4 linked regions of the Homo sapiens genome follow. The protein of the gene in region 4 purifies or fractionates together with the protein of the main gene of each other region. This does not show direct contact. Each region holds a gene or a part of one and is shown on either strand. Other genes may lie near its edges.

The links.
Region 1: the proteins of ADNP2 (region 4) and CHD5 purify together in Homo sapiens (affinity purification with mass spectrometry; one large-scale study listed by BioGRID and IntAct). This does not show direct contact.
Region 2: the proteins of ADNP2 (region 4) and GALNT9 purify together in Homo sapiens (affinity purification with mass spectrometry; one large-scale study listed by BioGRID and IntAct). This does not show direct contact.
Region 3: the proteins of ADNP2 (region 4) and GLI4 purify together in Homo sapiens (affinity purification with mass spectrometry; one large-scale study listed by BioGRID and IntAct). This does not show direct contact.

The regions. Positions count from the first base shown.
Region 1 is NC_000001.11:6,173,754-6,177,633, forward strand, and holds part of CHD5 (chromodomain-helicase-DNA-binding protein 5), read right to left. Parts: intron 1-3,880. UniProt on the Homo sapiens protein: ATP-dependent chromatin-remodeling factor that binds DNA through histones and regulates gene transcription. May specifically recognize and bind trimethylated 'Lys-27' (H3K27me3) and non-methylated 'Lys-4' of histone H3.
Region 2 is NC_000012.12:132,319,574-132,323,453, reverse strand, and holds part of GALNT9 (polypeptide N-acetylgalactosaminyltransferase 9), read left to right. Parts: intron 1-3,880. UniProt on the Homo sapiens protein: Catalyzes the initial reaction in O-linked oligosaccharide biosynthesis, the transfer of an N-acetyl-D-galactosamine residue to a serine or threonine residue on the protein receptor. Does not glycosylate apomucin or SDC3.
Region 3 is NC_000008.11:143,266,063-143,270,396, reverse strand, and holds the start of GLI4 (zinc finger protein GLI4), read right to left. Parts: upstream 2,953-4,334; 5' UTR 2,913-2,952; intron 1,038-2,912; 5' UTR 1,001-1,037; coding exon 877-1,000; intron 1-876.
Region 4 is NC_000018.10:80,129,523-80,133,402, forward strand, and holds part of ADNP2 (activity-dependent neuroprotector homeobox protein 2), read left to right. Parts: intron 1-2,667; exon of another isoform or gene 2,668-2,855; intron 2,856-3,580; coding exon 3,581-3,670; intron 3,671-3,880. UniProt on the Homo sapiens protein: May be involved in transcriptional regulation. May play a role in neuronal function; perhaps involved in protection of brain tissues from oxidative stress. May be involved in erythroid differentiation.

The sequences.
Region 1 (3,880 bases), on a different chromosome or scaffold from region 4:
GCCACTGCTGGGCCAGAGGTTCTCAGGGCCACCCTAGACGCTGGCCAAGGAGTTCTCAGGCTGCCGTTAGTCCTCGAACCTCCCCCCATGAGACAGGGCTTATGCTGGCAAAGGGGGGCAGTACACCGCCCAAGAGAGGATTCATAATTTATTTATGACATTTAACAAAACCCAGACATCACCTCATTGGTGTCACATCAAAAGAAAGCATCAGTCCTGAGTGGGGAGTGGAGGGAAGAGACGGGGATAGATGAGGCATTTACCCCAAGTGACTGGGGCCTGGGGGGAGTCACCCTGGGGGTGCAGGGAAAGCAGGGAGAGGCCCAGGGCATGGGTGGGGAGGAGGAGGACAGAATGGTGAGAGGGGAAGTCAACCTGGGGGGACAGGGAGGGACAAAAGAGAGAAAAACGGCCAGACAGAAAGGGAGAGGCAGGGGCATGACCTCAGGGGAGACGAAAACTGACAGATATGGGGACAGAGGGAGAGAGAGAGACAGGGAAGGAGAGTGAAATAAGGACAGAGCCACAGAGATAAGCAAAAGCCCAGAAAGTTAGACAACACACATTGTGTTCAGTACCCAGCTCAGAGAAGATATTCCAGAAGTCTCTGATGGGTGGACGGATAATTGTATAGTGAATGGATGGATGGTGGATAGGTGGATGGATGAATGCATGGTGGATGGATGGTGAATAGATTGATGGATGATGAATTGATGGATAGATGGTGGGTAGATGGATGGATAGATGGATGGATGGTGGGTGGATGGATGGATGGATGGATGGATGGCAGATGGATGGACACTGGACGGATGGTGGATGGGTGGATAGTGGATGGATGGTGGATGGGTGGATGGACGAATGGATGGTGGATAGATGGTGAATAGATGGATGGATGATGAATTGATGGATAGACGGTGGGTGGAAGGATGGATGGTGGATGGGTGGATGGATGAATGGATGGTGGATGGATGGTGAATAAGTGGATAGATGGTGAATTGATGGATGGATGATGAATTGATGGATAGATGGTGGGTGGATGGATGAATGGTGGATGGAAGATGGAGGATGGACGGATGGATAAATGGATGAATGGATGAATGACGGATGGATGGATGAAAGATGAATGGATAGATGGATGGATAGATGGTGGGTGGGTGGATGGATGGATGGTGGATGAAGGATGGATGGTGGGTGGGTGGATGGATGGATGGTGGATGAAGGATGGATGGATGGATGGATGGATGGCAGATGGATGGCTGAATGGATAATGGATGGATGATGGATGGATGGTGGGTGGATGAATGGTGGATGAATGGATGAGTGGATGGTGGATGGATGCATGGATGGATGGTGGATTGATGAATAGATGGACAATAGGTGGATGGATGGATGGCAGATGGATGGATGGTGGGCGGATGGTGGGTGGATGAATGAGTGGTGGATGAATGGATGAGTGGATGGTGGTTGGATGCGTGGTTGGATTGTGGATTGATGGATGGATGGTGGGTGGATGGATGGATGGATGCATGGATGGATGGTGGATGGATGAATGAATGGATGGTGGATGGATGAATGGATGGTGGATGAATGGATGAGTGGATGGTGGATGGATGCATGGATGGATGGTGGATGGATGCATGGATGGATGGTGGATAGATGAATGGATGGATGACGGGTGGATAGATGGATGAATGGTGGGTACAGGAATGGATGGATGGTGGGTGGTGGATGAATGGATGGAAGCATGAATGGTGGATGGGCAGATGGATGGATGGTGGATGGGCAGATGGATGGATGGTGGATGGGTGGATGGTGGATGGACAGATGAATGAATGGTGGATGGATGGATTGGAGGATGGATGAATGAATGGTGGGAAGCATGGACAGATAGTGCATGGATGAATAGTGGATAAGAAGAACAAGAACAAATGGATGGATGGATGGATGGATGGATGGACGGACGGACGGATGGATATACATATGGATAGATAGGTGGATGGTGAATGGTTACTTGGTTGGTTTTGTGGGTCGACGGGTAGATGTGGGAGAGCAGGTAGATACATGGATACATGGATGCATGGATGGATGGATGGATGGTGGGAAGCATGGACGAATAGTGCATGGATGAATAGTGGATAGGAAGAACAGATGGATGGATGGATATGGTATGGATATGGATTGATAGGCGGATGGTGAACGGTTACTTGGTTGGTTTTGTAGGTGGATGGGTAGATGTGGGTGGGTAGGTAGATGGATGGATGGATGATGGGTGAGCGACTGAATGAACTGATAAAATGATAGATGGATCCTATTACCTGATCAACTTGGAATGACAATGAATAACCCACTGGCCAAGCCACTGGGCAAAGTGTGCTGGTCATTTTGTCTCCCTCCTCCCAGAAAAGAATGTTAAATACAATCAGGCTCCCTGGGACCCCCCTACCAAACCATGCTTCCACAGGGGTAGGGGTGCAGGCTAAAATGTCATGGCCTTTTGGGAATCATGACTGTCACTCTCTCCTGGCCCCTGGACCTGAGGAAGCAAGCCTAAGATACTTACACATCTAGGGCCAATTGTCACTGGGGCCAGAGAGGTAACGGTGCCTAGTCCAGACATTGCCCATTCTGGGCTCACTAGCTTTGTCTGTGATTGAGGAAAAGCTGGGCCAATGAGGCAGGGAATTTGCCAGCCCAGCAGTGGCCCTAAGAGGGCTGAGAGCCACATTTTCTGAAGCCCTCTCCTGCTTCCTGCCACCCCTACCTTGGGCTTCACAGCCCTCCTCCCACCCAGGCTCCTACTCCCCTGAGCTTACTGGCTAAGGATGCAAGTATCAGAAGCATTTCCTTGGAGAAGGCAGGACAGCTGCCCTCCTTGGCTGGTGCTAACTACACCAGCCACAGTTTATTGAGCACCTATCATGTGCTGGGCACTGTGGCCTAATGTTCCACATGCACTGTCTCACTGTTCCTCATAATAACCCTCTATGAGGTAGCCAGTGCTATGTCCCCATACTACAAGTGGGCACACCGAGGAGAGGGCTGCCTGGCTTGTCCAAGACCACTCAGCTAATGCTCAGAGCTAGAAGCCAAGGCCTCATCCCACCAGCTCTTGACCCCTGGCTTCAACCAGCCACCCCAACTCCCAGGAGAATCTGGCAACTGCTGGTCCCCCAACCAGAAGAGGCACCCGCCCTGCCTTCCTCCTAGAAGCTGGCTCAGACACCTGCCTCAATGCCAGAGCTGGCCAGGGCAAACCTCCCCCTCCCCACCATCACTGCACGGGAAACAATAATTCACTGCTGAGAGTGAGCAACTCCCAGGGGGAGGTGGGAGATGAGCAGAGTCAAAGAAAAAAGATCGGACAAGTCATGAGTTTAATAGCCGTAGACTGAAAAATCATCATGACAGCTTCCAAAACACTAGCTCCTCCAGCCACAAACTTCCATCTTTTGGAACCAGCTGGTTCTGGTCTTTGGGGGTCACCGCCACTGAGCTTGGACTCAGGGCTGCATAGGGGCTATGAGGAAGAGCTCAGGGTGAGTGGGGGGCCAGCAGTGCGACTTGACAGGAGGCCTGGCTAGGGCTGTCTTCACAGCCAGAAGCTGGGGTGACCTAGAGAGTCCCAGCCCTCAGACACTGAAACCACAACCATCTCTCAGGAACGCATGGTTTCAGGTGCTGGGCATGGCAGGTTATCGAGAGTTACATTCGAAGGGGAACCCACAGATCCAGGAGGAAACTGATGACAACGTTTCGAGTATGTGAGGTGTGGTGACACAAGCATGTAGTCCCAGCTACTAGGGAGGTTGAGGCAGGAGGATCGCTTGAGCACAGGAGTTCAAATCCAGCTTGGGCAACACAGCAAGACCCCATCTCTTCC
Region 2 (3,880 bases), on a different chromosome or scaffold from region 4:
ACCTGCCCCTTTGAGTCTTGGGGGAGATGAGTTCCTAAACACTTGTCAGCCACTTCCCTTGGGGCGGAGCAGACCTGCGTAGAGCAGGCCCGGTCGGCAGCCTTCTGTCTGCAAACGCAGCAGCCCGAGCTTCTAGGAACGACCCAGGCAGGCGGTGATCCCCAGCGTCGGCGTGTGCTGGGCTGAGTGTTTGCATTTACAATTCAGCACAGCAACCTGCATATTTCAGAGTCTTGGAACTATTTTCTGAAAGGACAGTTTATCCTTCATTGGCTGGAAACTTGACAAAAATAAGTCTGTAAATTTCCATGTCAGATCTCCCACTGAGGACAAACGGGCAGGATGGGATCCATGTCTTGAGACCCGTGTGGTCAGCAGCCCATTTTCTCTTGAGCAAGCACAGATGCCTGTGAAGGGACAAGGAGGTGGAGAAGCCGGGAGGCGCTGGAGGAGGGGGCAAGGCTGACGCACGGCTCTCGAGCCCGAGGAAGTGCCCCTGTGGCCTGGGCTTTCCCGTACGGGACGGCCAGGAGAGCGATGGCCGCCCCGCCACTCAGCAAGCGGACTGGTGTCAGCCTAAGTCTGACAGTCCCCCCTCTAGCTGCCATTCACAGGAAGGAGAAACTCATTTTCCAGTCGTTTAAAAGGTGCCAAGGGTTGTATCATCTCGTAGCACGGAAGCAGCTCGGCCCTGGGCTCTGCGCCCGGTCCCCTGGGCTCACCAGGCCCTCCCAGGAAGCCGCCCAGGCCTGCTCCCACCTCCATCCTCGCAGAGCCTGCAAACCCCCCTCCCATGCCTGGGGACGCCATGGTGCTTCCTACGTTCTGGAAGTAGGAGGGGGCAAACTGTGAAGGGGTGACAGGAGCTGGGGTTGGGCAGACGCCCCCATTCCCTGTGCAAACACTCACCCCTCCCGGAGCCTTCTGTGGGGCAACTGAGTCACGGACGGGGATGCTGGGTGCTTGCTGTGCTCGAACTGGCATTTGCGGGCCCAGCCCCTATGAGCTGAGGGCCTGTCTCAGTGAGCAACGGCACCACCTCATGTGCCGCATGTCCGTTCCTTCCTGGCGAATTCGTGAGCACCTGCTGCATTCCTGAACTGCGCTGAGGACGCGGGCCTGAGCAGAGATGTCCCCACCTCAGGGGCTGACATCCCAGGGAGGAAGACGGGGAGTGAGTAAGTTGCATGGTCCAGATGGTCTCAGACAAACCTACGAGGAGGCCTGAGTGACGTGGACGAATGGGTATCTGGGTGGCGGGGATGGTTACGGGTTGAACGGGGCCCGCCCGGAAGCTCACGTCCACCTGGAACCTCGGAATGTGGCTTATTTAGAAACAGGGTCTTTGCAGAAGTAATTAGATAAGATGCCCTCAGCCAGGACTGGGGATTAGTGGGCCCTAAATCCAATGACTGTGGCCCTTCTAAGACGAGGAGAGACAGTGGGGGTTTGGAGGGGAGGACGCCCCTTGGGGGCCGAGGCGGGGGCTGGGGTGGTGCAGGGGGCCGAGGCGGGGGCTGGGGAGAGGCAGGATGTGTCTTACCCACTGCCTTCAGAGGGAGTGTGGCCCTGCGCGCCTGACATCCAACTCCCGGCCTCCTGTATGAGGGGACAGGTGTGTGAGGGGACAGGTGTGTGGGCTCCTGTGTGAGGGGACAGGTGTGTGAGGGGACAGGTGTGTGGGGTGGAGCCTCCCCACTCGGTGCCACTGCAGTGACCTGGGACACACACAGGTGGGTGGGGAGGGAGCCACTCTCTGAATTGTGAATGAGGAGAAGGAGCTGCCAGGAGAGAATCCGGGGGAAGTGCTGGGTGTCGGTGGCAGGTGCAGAGGCCACAGTGGGCCCTGGGGTTGGGGTGGTCAGGGCGAAGTGAGTGAGGGAGATGGTGAGGTGCTAGGGCAGGGGGCTGCCAGGACAGCCTGTTGGCCCCGGAAGGGTGCTGGCTGCACTCCCAGGCTCCGGACCATGCCAGAAGGTTCTTGACGAGGGATGTGACACTGTGGGTGCCTGTTTTGTGGGGGCACTGAGGTCCCATCTCTGGTGGTGCCCGTCTCACTAGCTGCTTGAAGCACATTTTCAGTTTCACTCGGATCTGCCAGGACCCAGATGAGACGGGCGACTCATTAGCAGACGGGAAACCAAGGTCTCCGGAGCAGCTGGTGTACCATGGCCTTGATTCTGGACCCACAGGGGCCTCGACTCCGGACCGACAGGGGCCTCGACTCCAGACCCACAGGGGCCTCGACTCTGGACCAACAGGGGCCTCGACTCCGGACCCACAGGCACCCTCAGTCAGGGCTGACACAGGTGGGGCAGTTCTTCCTGGCGGGGCCGCCCCCTGGGTGGGTTGTGGATGTTGAGCAGCGTTTGGCTCCACCCACTGCCAGGCACCCTCCTCCCCGCTGGGACGCCAGGAGGCCCCTGGAGCGAGAGTCCACCCTGGGCACCTGCCTCACTGACTGTGGCGTCGACCGCCTGGGTTCAAACCCAGCTCCTCCCTCCTCAGCTGCACGACTGTGGGCCGGTCACACGACCCCTGCACCTTGGTTTCCCTATCTGTAAAGGGGGGATGCCCGGAGCAACAGCCTCGGGGGGCCCTGTGGGCACTGAAGGAGGCACGCGGCACAGCAGAAGGACCCCCCCGCTGGCGCCGCCCACCTCCCCTCGCCTCTGAGATGAGGGTGGGCTGATGATTCTCCAACCCCGAGGGCACCTGGTGGGGGCGGAGGCCTTGAGCTGGCCCAGGGACATGGAGTTGGAGAGAATCAGATCATGCCGAGGGAGCTTCCCTCCACCTCCTCCACCGTGTCCCACGGATCCAGGCACACGGGCTTTGCTAACAGACACACCTGGCCATACTCTCAATGCAGCATCCCATTTCCATTCTGTTTACTGATATTTACTAGTAAAACGATACATGTTTTCTATTGTTGGTGCCAATCCATCACTTATTTAAGAAACGAATTAATTTAACTTAAAAGATGAGTCGATTTAAAAGAAACTGTTAAGTAATATGAACTCAAGCTTCTGTAGAGACGACAGATTCCCCAGGAATCCAGAAAGATCCGAGGTGGGGGCGTCTGTGCCTCGTGGCCCTCGAGGGCTCTGGGCCGTGTCTGCCGCACCCGCGTCCTCGAGGCGGAATCGGAACCCGGGAAGTGAGGTCCCGGCTCTGCACGCAGCACCCTCCCCGGGCGTTCTGTGCCTCTCAGTGTGAGTTTAAACAACAACAAATAAAAATAAAACAAGCGCGTGTGTGGATGTGCTGTGGGGAGGCTCCTGGGCTTGGCGGCCGGCCCTGGCACATTGTACCCACACGGACTTGGGGATGTCGCTGCAGGAGCAGCTTGAGGCTCGCCAGCCCTGTTAGCAGCTGAGATCTTTGATTTTCAGCTACAGAAAACTCAAGTCTGACAGAGTGAACGCTAACGGGACCCAGTGGCCCAGTGGTTCTGGCAGAGGGGATAGCGTGACCCAGCGGTGGGGGCCGCTGGCCGCCCCCTTTTCCTTAGGAGCGCCTGCCTCGTGTGCCCGCCTGCATGGCGGGGTCAGTGAGTGCCTCCGAACCTCCGGAGGCTGAGGGTGGAGAAGACACAGGTTCTACAGGAAATCCGGCTTCTCCCTAGAAGGACGCGGGAGGCTGGGCACCCAGGCCCGAGGAATGTCTTCTGTCTACGTGGGGCTGCGGGAGGAGCACCCGAGGCGACCTGAGGTGACCTGTGGCCGCGTGTTGTGCCGGGTACAGCTGTGTGTGTGGCGGAGTGGGGTGTTGACCTGCCCCAGACGGAAAGGCCTGTTGAAAAGCAAACTCAGCTAGTGTGTGCGTCAGGGCTCTCCCGAGGAAAGGAGCCGGCGGATAGAGAGAGACCCAAGAGGAG
Region 3 (4,334 bases), on a different chromosome or scaffold from region 4:
TCCCTGCTCCTCTAACTCACCCTGGTCCTGGCTCCTTGGGGGAGCCCCCCGGACTCTCTGTCCCCATCTGAGTGCCCACCTGAGGGCCCCATGCAGCGCAGCTGCTCTCCACAAGCCTCAGTGGTCCCTTCAGCCACCAGGACTCTGACTCCCCAAGAGGGAGAACCCTGTGCCAGGTTGCCCCCATTCCTGGGCCAGGCACGGGCTCTCCAGGCTTGACCTATATGGGGCCTTGCCCCTGCTGTCAGCAGCTCATGTGCTGGGTTGGGCCACGAGGGCCGAGGCCAGGCCTCCTGTGGAACACCCAGCAGAGATGTAGCCTCAGGATCCCTGACCTCTGAGAGGGAGTAGAGCCAGGGGCACTATGGGGCTGGGACTCCCCCACACCTCAACTCCCAGAGCCTGCCATGTGACCATGAGGCCACAACATCAGGGGTGGAGCAAGGCTGGCGCTCTGTCCCTGCGAGTCCCGGGGGATCACACCCAAACCAGCTTGGCAAGGACTCTGGCTGCTCCACTTCCTGAATGACAACACACACTCAGAGGGGCGATGCCTTGCTCCTGGTCACGCTGGATCCAGATTTTGAGGCCACTTTCCCTCCTATACCTCAACTCAGGAAAGAAACAATGCGGGGAGCTGTCCCTAGGGAGCGAGAGCTCAGGCTTGGCCCCAGCCTCAACCACCGCTGCCCCAACCCAACCCGCGCCGAGCCCCTGGCCTGAGGGTGTGGGAACCCCAGCTGCTGAAGGAGCTGCATACAGGTGTCTGGAGGCGCCTCTCAAGTCAGCCAGCGTGGCAGGTCAGGAGGAGACAGGGCAGGGGACGTGAGGGCAGGGGATGCAGGGTGGAGGGCGCACAGCGGGCTGGGTGAGTACCATGTTGATGCCCATGGAGGTGAAGCTGAGGCTCGTGGTGCTGGGTTCCAGGTGTCCCCGGTGATGAGAGACTGACAGGGGACGGGACAGAAGGGGACTCCTGAATGTCCCCTAGGGCTGCCATCTTCCCTGAGACCTGCTGAAGGTGTCACACCTGGGACCTGGGGAAAATGAAAACCATGGCAGATGAGGGGATTGGGAGGAATGTCGGGGGGATGGTGCAGGAGGAGGCAACATGCCAGCTCTCCAAGGGGAGATGGAGGTTTATCCACTCCAGGAGGAGCAAGGATGGAGGATGAACCCACAGAGACACATAGGCCTGGGGTGAGGCAGTTGGGGGACCTGGCACATTTATTCAGTAAGGAATAACGCTTTGAGTGGCTGGGGACGGTGGCTCATGCCTGTAATCCCAGCACTTTGTGAGGCCGAGGTGGGTAGATCATGAGGTCAGGAGTTTGAGACCAGCCTGTCTAATATGGTGAAACCCCATCTCTACTAAAAATATAAAAATTAGCTGGGCGCAGTGGCGGGCACCTGTAATCCCAGCTACTTGGGAAGCTGAGGCAGGAGAACAGCTTGAAATCAGGAGGTGGAGGTTGCAGTGAGCCGAGATGGCGCCCCTGCACTCCAGCCTGGGAGACACAGCAAGACTCAAACAACAGCAGCAGCAGCAGCAGCAGCAAAGGAGTAACGCCTTGGAAGGCGCGCTTAGGAAGCAGCCACCGCCTGGGCGGCACAGCAGACGCCTGTGGGGGCTGAAGCGAAGCTCCTGTCCCAGCAGAGGCTCTGGCATCTCCTTCCAGCCCGTGGCATCACCCCTCCCCCAGAGAAAGGCATAGGGAGTCTTCCAGAAAAACCTCAGCTGCTGGCCCTGTGGGAGGGCTGAAAACCGAACCATGCCTGCTGCGCATGAGTGTTTTGGAGGAAATCTTAATAAGGTTTTTCCCGAACAGCAGAGAAGAGACGTTTCCAGAGGGCAACTCTCTTCCTCAGACCCTACAGAGCCCTCAGAGACTGCAGGCTGGAATCCCCTAGTCCAGCCCTGCAGCAGCACTGGGAGACTCACTCAGGGCTCCAAGACACTTCTTAGTTTACTTTGCAAAAACGGCTTGAGTCCAATGTGAAAAGTGACTTTTCTTTCATACTGTGATAGAGTAGGAACTCCTAATCTGGGGCAGGGAGTGAAGAAAGGAACGGGAAAAGAGGACAAAAGTTAACGGATACTCAGATCTAAGAACAGCAGACAGTGCCTGCTTCGAGGAAGTGGGAGAGGCAGCTCCCACACGGCCGCCACCCCAGTGCCCGGCTTCTGGGCCAGCCTCCATCCCCTAATGATGGGAAGGGTCAGGTCACCAGGTAGGTGGCCACTGGGTGCAGGTCCTCCACCCTGAAGTCACATCTCAAGTTACTTAGTTAACTTACTGGGGACACCTGGTAAAAGGGCCTGCTCGATCACCCCGACCCTGGCTTGGCCCCCAGGACTGAGCAGAGGCGACCATCACAGCGTGGACGCCCCTTCACCCCCAGGGACGCACAAACTCTGAGCTCCAGACTGAAGGGGGAAGGGCACTCCTGCCAGCGGCTCGGGGGAAGCATCCTCTGCCCCTCTGTTCCCAGCCCCGTGGGAGCGGACCCAATCGCCGGGAGCTCGGCACAGAGCGCGTCCGCCCGGCGGTGCGGCGCTGGGGTCCGGCGGCTCCTCGCTCCGGAGCGGCGGGACCTCCGGGCCTCAGTTTCCCATCTGCAGAGTGGCGATGACGACAGCTGCCGTCACTGGGTGCCTGGGAAAGGCGCCCTGCGAACGGACACCCGCTATCGCCAGGGCCGCTGGGCGGGGCGGTCCGCTGCTGCTCCGCGACCCCCAGGAGCCCACCCCGCTCCCCGGGCTTGGCCCAAGGCCAAGGTCACGGCGAGCGGCGGCTGCAAGGGCCGCACGGCCCGGCTGGGCAGGGCTGCACCGCGGAGTACGGCGCACGAGCTCGGACTGGGCTGGTCCCAGGCACCCGGAGCCGCCGCCGCCGCCCGCGCCCACTCACCTTCCGAGCGGGAGGAGGACGCCGCGCGCCGGACGGAAGTGTCCGGCCCCGCCCCACTCCGCCCGGCCGGCGCGCACTTCCGGGACGCTCTGGGCCCCGGGAGGACCGCACGCCTCGGTGGCCGTGTGGGGGCGGGGCCGGGAGCGAAGAGGAGGCCTTTCCCCGCCCCTCCCCTCGTGGGCTGCGCCCGCGCGTGGCTTTCGCGTACACGCTGGCCCGGATCCCGCCCGCGCCTGCAAAGCGCCCGGGCGCGGGGAGCGGCGCTGCGTGGGGCGCAGAAGCCGGCGCCTCGGAGCCTCCTTCCCGACGCCGGCCCTGCACCGCCCGGGGAGCCAGCGCGGGGCCGGGCTTCGGGAGATGACGGCGCCGTCCCCACGCTGCCCGCGGCCCCTCCGTGCACTCCAGGCCTCCGGGGGTCCTCGGCTGGAGTTGCTTCCACGTTCAGCTCGCGAGTCCCCCCCGCCGCCCTCTTGGGTTCCCTCCTCGGGATGTGTCCGCAGCGATGGTCACCGGCGGCCGGGAACCGCTGCGAGACGCGCGACCTCCCGCTCCCCTCGCGGGGGCCCCAGCGCCCTCGATTCTGCCTGCTTTCCAGGGGCGTCCCCGGGAGCCTGAGGAGGATGTTACAGGTTCCCCAAAGCCCCTTCATGGACTCCTTCCTCATTTTCCTCTTGTTCAGCCACAGTTTCTCCCTCAGTTCTGTGCTTACGACCTGAAAAGAGAAAATTGTCACTTTCTGGGAAAAATAAACGGCCGGGGAGGGTTCTTTGACCGTTTTGAGCAGGGGTGCAGAGAGCCGAGGCGAGGGGACCCCTGAGCTGGAGGGGCACGCGGAGCAGAGGGCGGGGGGGCCTGCAGACGGGCAACAGCTGCCAGGGTGGACGCTCAGGGCTGTGTGGGTGGAGGAGCCCCCAGGCTGATAATATGTAAAAATCTCTAAACTCTACCGCAAGAAAACAAACATTCCAGTTAGAAAATTGGCAAGAGCCGCAACAGACGTTTGACCGAAGAGGGCACAGGGATGGCAATAGGCTCGGGAAGGGATGGCTGTCAGGGAAGGGCCGGCCAGCATCGCGGTGGGTGCCACTGCACACTTGCCAGGTGGCTCAGGTAAAAACTGCTAACAAGTGCCAAGCATCACTGAGGTCGCGGAGCAGCTTGGGACATCGCCAGTGGTAAGGCAAAGTGGTGCTGCCATTCTAGAAATTGGCTTGGTAGTTTCTTAAAAAGTTATAAGTAGCGCCGGGCGCAGTGGCTCACGCCTGTAATCCCAGCACTTTGGGACACTGAAGTGGGTGGATCACCAGAGGTGGGGAGTTTGAGACCAGCCTGACCAACAGGGAGAAACCCCATCTCTACTAAAAATATAAAAAAGCTACCCGGACACGGTGGCGGGCACCTGTAATCCCAGCTACTTGGGAG
Region 4 (3,880 bases):
CAGAGATGCCCCTCCTTCCAGATGTGTCTGGTACTTTCTTATAGTGTTGTTTCAGCTTAGTCCCCTGTCCCCTGAGCTTCTTTTAAATGAGAAGTTCTACTGAAAGGCCCAGTTGATTCAAGTTAAACATTTTGGGCTAGAATATATATGATGTTCTATGCTTCTTGTGTCACTTCAGGGACCCCAGTCATATTTTGTTGCTTCAATACAATAGATGGCAGTCTGGTCTTTGTGTGCATTATGTTCTTTCTGTGGACTGGAATGCAATGCATTTAACACCTGTTGATGATCCTGGTCCTAGATGGTAGTTTTATTTGGGGGCTTGCTGTGAATGAGGTGTTTCTGATTCTGTCACATGTAGATTGTTAGCAGACATTCTTCTGTAAACTCTTGTTTTACTCAGCAGTTGGGACTGTTTGGTTTCTCTGAAATATAGTGCCTCTGGGAAAGGCAGGATAGTTTTATCCTTTCCTTTGAGCTGTGACTTTTCAAAGTGAGTAGTTAGTTAACCTTTCCCAATGGTGATTCGTGAAATGCCTTTTTTTCTGACTTTCTTGAGCACTTCTGTGGATCTCCTGTGACTTCGTGTGTTTGGGTCTCTACGGCCATTTGTCTTTCTGATGCTCAAATGTTACAACATCCAGGTGCTCCTGGTGCTTTTGTCATGACCCCTCCCCTAAAGGGCCTGTGAGGATGGGCCCATTCTTTGAGCATTTGTCTCATTTGTCTTTGAGCATTTGTACTTATACTTTTCTGTAGGTTCTGAAGTTGGCTTCGTGAGCTAATTCTGAATGCACTGTTACCTCACAGGACTGTCCATATCACGCGATTATGGACTTGATACGTCTTTATGCTCACTTCTTAATACAGTCTGCACTTTTAAATAAGTGAGCTATGCTGCACAGGTAAAGAAAGTGTTTTGTATGACTACACTTTCTACACGCTTTGTGAAGTAGCTGAGAGCAAAACAGGAGTAGATTTTTACTTCTTTCAACTCAGAGAAAAAGAAGAAAAGTAATCTTGGGCCACATGGACTTTACAATTTTAGAAATGGAAAATGTTTTTCTTGTACACCTTCTCAGTGTCTGATTTTCACTTTTTGATACAGTTTTATTTAAAACCCTCTGCCGCCCTGCACTTCATCAGGATTCTGCCCCAGGCCTTGTTGTTTCTCTCTCTCCTGTTCCCTCCCTGTCATGTTAGCCACCCCAGCCCCCGCCCCCCCGCCCACGTCAGGTCAGGCAGACACAGTTGGAGCTCTCTGCGTTATACTCCTTTACCACTTCACAGTCATTATTCATAGCACCTACCACCCATGAAAGACAGTAGTTTCTTGTGAAAAACAATTTTACAAAATATCTGTGTTTCTCAGTTGTGAAACTGTGAGGTTGGGATCCCATCTGTCTTATCCATGGTTGGGTTCCCAGAGTCCAAAAGGAAATATTTGAGGGTTGGATTAGTGATGACTGCGAAAGGATGAGGTAGATTACTGTTCTGTGGAGCTTGTAATTGTTTTGTCTTAGGCCATTTTACCTGCACGTAAGGTGGAGGCCTTCCTTCTACGTTTCCTCCCTTCCCTACCTGCTGCCAGCAGGCTTTGGAAGTCAGCCGTTGAACCCCTGCTCTGAGGATGCTGCTGCTGTGGGAGGTCTCGGCTCATGCATTTCTGGCCTCTGGACCCCTTTCTGGGACCTGCGTGCTCCTCTTCTCTCCATGTTCACCTGCCCCTGAGAGTTACCAATACGCAGTGTGTTTCTCACACTACTGCCTCTTTCAGCTGATTGTGAGGTTTTCCTGACACCCTTGTCTACACTATAGGTCTTTTGCATAATTTTCTCACTCTAGCAAGTGTAACTTTTTGAGTGAAAAATGATTGATTCCATCTGAGAAAAAAATCCTCTATACGTTCTAGATCTTTGTTTAACTGCTTTGAAAGGTATTTAAAGAGTAAGAAAAAAATACACTTTTCTTTCATTCCCTAAGACGAATGGATTGAACAATAGCGGTAAGGTATAGTTTAAAAAGACGGTGTTCAAGATGAAGATTCTTTTTTTTTTTTTTTTTAATTATACTTTAAGTTCTAGGGTACATGTGCACAACGTGCAGGTTTGTTGCATATGTATACATGTACCAATACTATGCAGCCATAAAAAAGGATGAGTTCATGTCCTTTGCAGGGACATGGATGAAGCTGGAAACCATCATTCTGAGCAAACTGTTGCAAGGACAGAAAACCAAACACTGCATGTTCTTACTCACAGATGGGAATTGAACAGTGAGAACACTTGGACACAGGGCAGGGAACATCACACACTCGGGCCTGTCATGGGGTGGGGGGCAGGGGGAGGGATAGCATTAGGAGAAATACCTAATGTAAATGACGAGTTATAAATCATGCTACTATGAAGATACATGCACATGTATGTTTATTGCAGCACTATTCACAATAGCAAAGACTTGGAACCAACCCAGATGAAGATTGTTTTACTTTGAAGTACTTTTTTGTTTCTTTATATGTACTCATGAAGCTACATGGGTTTTAGAATCCTTACGTTTAGGCTTTGCGTACATATAGAGGATGTAGATAGTTATTTGTTGGGAGGTCTCCTCTGTTTATTTCTTATGAATCTGTAATTTTGACTTGGATTATTTCAACCTTTTCCTCAGATTTCATACTTAAAGGGTACTCCATCAAAACTTGCTGAGAGCTTTATAGTCTGTCCTCTGTATCCAGGGGTTCTGCATCTGTTGATTAAACCAACTGTCTGTTGAAAATATTTGGGAGAGAAAATGCATGGTTGCATCTGTACTGAACATGTACAGACTTGTTTTCTTGTCACTGTTCTCTAAACAAGGTAAGTAGGAAGATGTGCATAGGTTACATGCAAGTAACTGCACGATTTAACATAAGAGACTTGAGCAGTCTTGGATTTGGTGCCTCCAGGTGGTTCTGGAACCAGTCCCCTATGGATACCGAGGGATGACTATACTTTCATTTCTCTTTTCCCCTGTAGATTTCTTAGGTACCAAGTAATGTCATCAGGTTCATTCTTTTTCCTTCCTTCCTTCCTCTCTTTTCTCTTTCTCTTTCTCTTTCTTTTTTCTCTTTCTCTCTTTTTTTCTCTCTCTCACTCTCTCCTCTCTCCCCTCTTCCTCCCCTCTCTCCTCTCCCCTCCCCTCTCCCCTCTCCCTCTTTCTGTCTCTCTCTCTCTCTTTCTTCTTTTCTTTTTCGATGGTGTCCTGCTCTGTCTCCCAGGCTTGAGTGCAGCTCACTGCAACCTCCACCTCCCGGGTTCAAGCAATTCTCCTGCCTCAGCCTCCCGAGTAGCTTGGAGTACAGGCATGTGCCACCATGCCCAGCTAATTTTTGTATTTTTTGGTAGAGATGGAGTTTCGCCATGTTGGCCAGGCTGGTCTCGACCTCCTGGCCTCAAGTGATCCACCCTCCTCAACCTCCCAAAGTGCTGGGATTACAAGCATGAACCACTATGCCCGGCCTTATAATCTCATCAGGTTCTAATTAAATATTTCTTTATCTTCTGAATTTACATAATCTCTTTTTTTTCTCCCTTTTTAAAAGGACCTTAAAGGCTTTGATCCAGGAGAGAAATACTTTCATAACACATCATGGGGTGATGTTTCTCTCTGGGAACCTTCTGGAAAGAAAGTGGTATGTATTTTTTGCATTTGTTTTTCATGTTTCCTCAAAAGTGAGCAGTGACTGTAAATGTGGTCTAAAGAACATCACATGTATTGGGGTTGCTGGTGAGTGAATGGGGAGGAGGAATAATGCAACCTTTCAGAGAAGTAGCAAGAAACCAAGTATAGTGTGTGGTCAGGCAGGGTTACTGATGCTCTGTTCTGTGTGCAGAGTTGATAC